Homo sapiens: one gene and its partner. Each later gene encodes a partner of the first gene's protein in a complex. Each region holds a gene or a part of one and is shown in the gene's direction. Other genes may lie near its edges.

Region 1 (3,589 bases):
TTTACATGGCAACAGGAGAGACAAATGCTGAGCAAAGGGGCTAAAGCCCCTCATAAAACCATCAGATCTCGTGAGAACTCACTATCATGAGAACAGCATGGGGGTAACCACCCCCATGATTCAGTTACTTCCCACTGGCTCCCTCCCACAACACGTGGGGATTATGGGCACTACAATTCAAGATGAGATTTGGGTGGCGGCACAAAGCCTAACCATAGCACCAACATCACTGTCTTCTACCTCCACATCTTTTCCCACCGGAAGGTCTTCGGGGGCACCAACATGCATAAACCTGTCATCTCCTATGATGATAATGCCTTCTTCTCGGATACCTCCTGAAAGGGCCTGCTTGGTGCTGTTTTACAGTTAACTTTTTTTTATAAGTGGGAAGAGTATATTTAATACCAAAAAAAGTATAGTATAGGCATACCTTGTCTTATTGCACTTAGCTTTATTGTATTTTATGGATACTTTGCTTTTTATAAATTGAAGGTTTTTGGCAACCTTGCCCCAAGCAAGTCTGTCAGTACCATTTTTCCAACAACATGTGTTCACTTTGTGTCTGTGTGTCAAATTTTGGTAATTCTTACAGTATTTCAAACTTCTTCATGATTTATTGTGTCCGTTAGTGATCTTTGATGTTGCTATTGTAATTGTTGGGCGGGGGGGCACCATGAAATGTGCCCATAAAAGTTACTGAATTTATTTGATAAATGAAATGCTGTGTGTGTTCTGACCACTCCACCCACCAGCCGTTCCCCATCTCTCTCCCTCTCAGACTTCCCTATTTCCTTAGACACAACAATATTGAAACTAGGCCAGTTAATAACCGTATTATGGCCTCTCGGTGTCCAAGTGAAAGAAAGTGTCCCATGTCTGTTACTTAAAATCCAAAGCTAGAAATGATTGAGCTTAGTGAAGAAGGCATGTGAAAAGCCAAATAGGCCAAAAGCTAGGCCTCAACACCAAATATTAGTCAAGTTATGAAAGCAAAGGAAAATTCTTGAAGGAAATTAAAAGTGCTACTCCAGTGAACGCACAAATGATAAGAAAGCAGAACATCCTTATTGCTGATATGGAGAAAGTTTCAGTGGTCTGGATAGAATATCAAACCAGCCACAACATTCTTTTAAGCCAAACCATAATCCAGACCAAGATCCTAACTCTTGAATTCTGTGAAGGCTGAGACAGGTGAGGAAGCTACAAAAGAAAAGTTTGAAGCTAGCAGAGGTTGGTTCATGAGGTTTAAGGAAAGAAGCCATCTCCATAACAGAAAAGTACAAGGTGAAGCAGCAGATGCTGTTGTAGAAGCTGCAGCAAGTTATCCGGAAGACCTAGCTAAGATCATTGACGGTGGGTACACTCAACAACAGATTTTCAATGTAGACGGAATAGCCTTCTATTGGAAGAAAGTGACATCTGGAACTTGCACAGCTAGAGAGAAGTCAATGCCTGGTTTCCAAGATGCAAAGATCAGAGTGATTCCCTTGTTAGGGACTAATGCAGCTGGTGATTTTACATTGAAGCCAAAGCTCATTTAGCATTCTGAAAATTGTAGGGCCCTTAAGAAGGTGGGGCTAAATCTACTCTGCCTGTGCTCTGTAAATAGAACAACAAAGTCTGGATGACAACACATCTGTTTACAGCATGGTTTACTGAATATTTTTTAAGCCCCCCATTAAGAGGTACTGTTCAGAAAAATAGATTCCTTTCAAAATATTACAGTGCACCTCATTACCCTAAAGCTCAGATGGAGATGTTTCATGCCTGCAACATCCAATCTTCGGCTTATGGATCAAGGAGTAATTTTGACTTTCAAGTCTTATTACTTAAGAAATACATTTTATAAAGCTATAGCTGCCCTGGATAGTGGTTCCTTTGATGGATCTGGACAAAGTAAATTGAAAACCTGGAAAGGATTCACCATTCTACACGCCCTTAAGAACATTTGTGATTCATGGGAGGAGGTTAAACTATGAACATAAAGAGGAGTTTGGAAGAAATTGATTCCAACCCTTCAGCCCTCATGGATGACTTTGAGGGATTGAGGACTTCCATGGAGGGAGTAACTGCAGATGTGGAGGAAATGGTAAGAGAATTAGAATCCAAAGGGGAGTCTAAAGATGGGACTGAATTGCTGCAATCTCATGTTAAAACTTTAATGGATGAGGAGCTCTTAGGGATGACCAAAGAAAGTGGTTTCTTGATGGAATCTTCTACTGGTGAAGATGCCGTGAACATTGTTGAAATGATAATGAAGGATTTAGAATATTACATAAACTTAATTGATAAAGCAGGTGCAGAATTTGAGAGGATTGATTCCAGTTCTGAAAGTTCTACTGTGGGTAAAATGCTATCAAACAGCATCCATCACAGAGAAATCTTTTGTCAAAGGAAGAATCAAATGATGTGGCAAACTTCTTTGTTGTCTTATTTTAAGAAATTGTCACAGCCACTTCAGCCTTCAGCAAACACCACCCTTGTCAGTTAGCAGCCATCGACATCAAGGCAAGACCCTGCTGGTGGGTCTTGGAAAAAGATGACAACTCACTGAAGTGTCTGATGGTTGTTAGCATGTTTTAGCAATAAAGTATTTTTGATTAAGGTATGTACATTGTTTACTAGACATAATGTTATTACACACTTAATAGACTACAGTATAGTGTAAACATAACATTTTTTTTTGAGATGGAGTCTTGCTCTGTCGCCTAGGCTGGAGTGCAGTGGCACGATCTTGGCTCAATGCAACCTCCACCTCCCAGGTTCTAGCACAGGTGGGCACCATCACACCCGGCTAATTTTTGTATTTTTAGTAGAGACGGGGTTTCCCCATGTTGGCCAGGCTGGTCTTGAATTCCTGAACTCAAGCGATCCACCTGCCTCGGCCTCCCAAAGTGCTGGGATTACAGGCATGAACCACCATGCCTGGCCAACATAACTTTTATATGTAGTGAGAAACCAAAAAAATTTGTGTGCCTTGCCTTATTGCAATATTTGCTTTATTGGTAGCCTGGAGCTGAACCAGCGATGTCCCTGAGATATGTCTGTACATAAACCAGTAACGTACTGTACCTAATTATGTTATACTTTTTTTTTTTTTGAGATTGAGTCTTGCTCTGTCACCCAGGCTGGAGTGCAATGGCATGGTCTTGGCTCACTGCAACCTCCGCCTCCTGGGTTCAAGTGATTCTCCTGCCTCAGCCTCCCGAGTAGCTGGGACTTCAGGCGTGTGCCACCACATCTGGCTAATTTTTTTTTTTTTGTACTTGTATTTGTAGTAGAGATGAGGTTTCACTATGTTGGCCAGGCTGATCTCAAACTCCTGACCTCGTGATCTGCCCACCTCGGCCTCCCAAAGTGCTGGGATTACAGGCGTGAGCCACCGCGCCTAGCTATATTATACTTTTATACAACTGGCAGTGTAGTAGATTTGTTTATACCTGTATCCCCACAAACGTGAATAATGCATTGCATTGTGACATGATGATGGTTATGACATCACTTGGTGATAGGAATTTTTCAGCTCCACTGTAATCTTATGGGACCAGTGTTTGTGTGGTCCGTCGCTGACATGTCATTATGTGACACA
Region 2 (3,820 bases), on another chromosome or scaffold:
CCATCCTGGCTAACATGGTGAAACCCCGTCTCTGCTAAAAAAAAATACAAAAAATTAGCTGGGCATGGTGGCGGGCACCTGTAATCCCAGCTACTTGGGAGGCTGAGGCAGGAGAATGGCGTGAACCCAGGAGGCGGAGCTTGCAGTGAACTGAGATCGCGCCATTGCACTCCAGCCTGGGCAACAGAGTGAGGCTCTGTCTAAAAAAATAAAATTAAAAAATAAAAAATAAAAAAAAAAAGAAGAAGAAAATACAAAATTAGCTGGGCATGGTGGCAGGTGCCTATAATCCCAGCTACTCGGGAGACTAAGGCAGGAGAATGGCGTGAACCCAGGAGGCGGAGCTTGCAGTGAGCTGAGATCACGCCATTGCACTCCAGCCTGGGTGACAGAGCGAGGCTCTGTCTTTAAAAAAAAAAAAAAAGAAGAAGAAGAAAATACAAAATTAGCCGGGCGTGGTGGTGCGTGCCTGTAATTCCAGCTACTCAGGAGGCTGAGGCAGGAGAATTGCTTGAACCCAGGAGGCGGAGGTTGTGGTGAGCTGAGATTGCGCCATTGCACTCCAGCCTGAGCAACAAGAGCGAGACTCCGTCCCACAAAAAAAAGAAAAAAACATGCTGGGATTACAGGCATGAGTCACTGCACCTGGCCAGCTTTTATTCTTTCACCAATCTGGTTGGTTGTCATTTTGTTTTTCATTTTTAATAATTACTTAGCCGGGTGCAGTGGCTCACACCTATAATCTTAGCACTTTGGGAAGCCTAAGCGGGTGGATCACCTGAGGTCAGGAGTTCGAGACTTGCCTGGCCAACATGGTGAAACCCCATCTCTACTAAAAATACAAAAATTAGCTGGGTGTGGTGGCGGGTGCTTGTAATCCCAGCTACTCGGGAGGCTGAGGCAGGAGAATCGCTTGAACCCGGGATGCAGAGGTTGCAGTGAGCCAAGATCATGCCATTGCACTCCAGCCTGGACAAGAGCGAAATTCCATCTCAAAAAAAAAAAAGAATTACTTAAATATTCTGGATTGTAGTCCTAGTCTGAAAATATCTTCTTTAGGGCTTTCTCATGTATCTTTTTTGTTTGTTTCTAGCTTCTTTTGTCTTTTTTATTTACTTATGTTTCCTGTCATGCTTTTTCATTAAACATTATGACAGTTCCTGTGTTATTAAAATACTTTGTGAAATAGCATTACAGGGGCTGCAGGATATCCCATCCCATACATATTCTGCAATTTACAATCATAGGTTATTCCCAAGTTTTCTCTATTATATAAATAATACTGTGATGCATATTTCTGTACATGAAGCTTTTTGCTATCTCGTGTTTGGTTTTTGTTTTTTTTTTTTTGAGATGGAGTCTCGCTCTGTCGCCCAGGCTGCAGTGCAGTGGTGCAGTCTTCGCTCACTGCAACCTCTGTCCCCTGGGTTCAAGCGATTCTCCTGCCTCAGCCTCAGGAGTAGCTGGGATTACAGGGGCCCCCACCACCATGCCTGGCTAATTTTTGTATTTTTAGTAGAGATGGGGTTTCACCATATTGGCCACGCTGGTCTTGAACTGCTGACCTCGTGATTCTCCCGCCTCGGCCTCCCAAAGTGCTGGGATTACAGGCATGAGTCACCGCACCCGGCCTGGTTTTGTTTTTTACTTAGGTAGATTGCTTTTAAACGGACAAATGGGTCCAAGTACTGATTTTAAAAAGGGCTCTACCACTTAAATAATTCCATGAATAGTATAGAAAAGTGTCTATCCATGGTATTTTCTTTTTCTGTGTGATGGAGTCTTGTTTTGTCGCCCAGGCTGGAGTGCAGTGGCGTGATCTCGGCTCACTGCAAACTCTGCCTCCTAGGTTCAAGCGATTCTCCTGCCACAGCCTGAGTAGCTGGGATTACAGGTGCGCACCACCACGCCCGGCTAATTTTTGTATTTTTAGTAGAGACGAGGTTTCACCATGTTGGTCAGGCTGGTCTCGAACTCCTGACCTTGTGAGCCACCTGTCTGGGCCTCCCAAAGCGCTAGGATTACAAGCATGAGCCACTGCGCCCACCTGGTATTTTCATGAACATACGTGCCACGTGTGTGTATAGCGTTGCATCAGGAGACAGCTTCGCTGGAGTGTGATTATGACTTGGAAACTCAGCTCCATTTCTGTTTCTTATAGCTCTTCCTCCTCCCAGAAAGACACGTGCTGAGCTCATGAAGGCAATCGATTTTGAGTACTATGGTTACCTAGATGAAGATGATGGTGTTATTGTGCCTTTGGAACAGGAATATGAAAAGAAACGTAGGTCTCTGGGCATTTTATTTCATAATAGATGGCATCTGTTTTCTGTTGTGTCCTTTGAAAACAGGATTTTCAATAGTGCTTTATGCCAGAAGGGAGTTTTCTTTGTTGCTAATGATCTTCAGGCGTGATGGTCTGCTAATTCCCTGACCCCTGTGAGGCAGTCAAAGCTGTGTGGGCCAGAGGTAACAGGTTGGGGAAGCCATGAGAGCCACGTCTGACCGGTCCCTGTCTGCTAGGAGGTCACCATGTGGATTCGTGCTAATACCAGTGCCCATGTGACACATCAGGCCAGGACTTTGGAAGCAAGTGGTCTGGAGCTGGAGCTGCTTTCTAGCATGCTCTGCCCCTGCCTTCTCTCTTTTCATGTGGACATGTTGGGAATCCACTCAGGTTGTGGAAGTGGGGAGGATTTGGGAATGTTCCCTAAAAAGCTGCTTTGTAGTGACTGAAGGCCAGAGCTGTTGTAGGACTACCATGCTTCACATCCATTTCCACCCACGGGGGCAGAATGAAGGGTGTCCCTTTCTAGAGGGGATGTCTAGACTTTCCCTGCATAGTGTTGGCCTTTCCCTGCATAGTGTTGAAAGCTCATTTAGAGACAAATAAATAGCACCTACCCTCTCTTGTGTTCAGTCAGAGCCGAGTTAGTGGAAAAGTGGAAAGCAGAGAGAGAGGCTCGGCTGGCAAGAGGAGAAAAGGAAGAGGAGGAGGAAGAGGAGGAAGAGATCAACATCTATGCAGTCACCGAGGAGGAGGTATTGGGGTTGGCCCCCTCTGGCACTCACTGCCATCTGTTCCAAGCCATGAAGTGTGGCAGGGAGGAAACTTGGCTCCCAAATACAGAGTCAGGGTTCACAGCCCAGCTTGCTCACCTGCAGGATGGCTGTGAAAACACTTGCGAGATTACAGGAGGGTTTCAGGAGGCAGCAGCCATGAGAGTGCCCTGCCGGCCGTGCTTTACACCAGGGCTTCCTTCTTTCCTTCTTAAAGACAGGCCCTTCTGCATACACTAGAATTAGACTGATAAACACAGAGGAAGCCATGAGCTTTAGCCCATGACCTCATCACTTCTGTTCACGTGTCAGTGGCAGTTGCTCTTCTGTAGTCTAACACCCCCATCTTTTTTATTTTTTTTGAAACGGAATCTGGCTCTGTTGCCCAGGCTGGAGTGCAGTGGCACAATCTTGGCTCACTGCAACCTCTGCCTTCCGGGTTCAAGCAATTCTTCTGCCTCAACCTCCCAAGTAGCTGGGACTACAGGCGAGTGCCACCACGCATGGCTAATTTTTGTATTTTTAGTAGAGACGGGGTTTCACCATATTGGCCAGGCTGGTCTCGAACTCCTGACCTTGTGATCCACCTGCCTTGGCCTCCCAAAGTGCTGGGATGACAGGTGTGAACCATTGCTCCCAGCCCTAACACCCCTGTCTTACACATGGAAAGAAACGCAGAGCAGAGAAGAAACTTTCTTAGAGGGTCATGGTTGGGGAATCTTTGCATATTTTCAGACCTTTTGCATATTTTCTGATCTTT

Evidence for each region.
Region 2: PRPF19 (region 1) and ISY1-RAB43 share a complex: the UniProt entries of both Homo sapiens proteins name them as parts of the XAB2 complex.

What each region holds. Positions count from the first base shown.
Region 1 is NC_000011.10:60,893,015-60,896,603, reverse strand, and holds part of PRPF19 (pre-mRNA-processing factor 19), read left to right. Parts: intron 1-3,589. UniProt on the Homo sapiens protein: Ubiquitin-protein ligase which is a core component of several complexes mainly involved pre-mRNA splicing and DNA repair. Required for pre-mRNA splicing as component of the spliceosome.
Region 2 is NC_000003.12:129,133,296-129,137,115, reverse strand, and holds part of ISY1-RAB43 (ISY1-RAB43 protein), read left to right. Parts: intron 1-2,161; coding exon 2,162-2,284; intron 2,285-2,920; coding exon 2,921-3,042; intron 3,043-3,820. Other genes in the region: pre-mRNA-splicing factor ISY1 homolog, read left to right, coding at 2,162-2,284, 2,921-3,042. UniProt on the Homo sapiens protein: Component of the spliceosome C complex required for the selective processing of microRNAs during embryonic stem cell differentiation. Required for the biogenesis of all miRNAs from the pri-miR-17-92 primary transcript except miR-92a.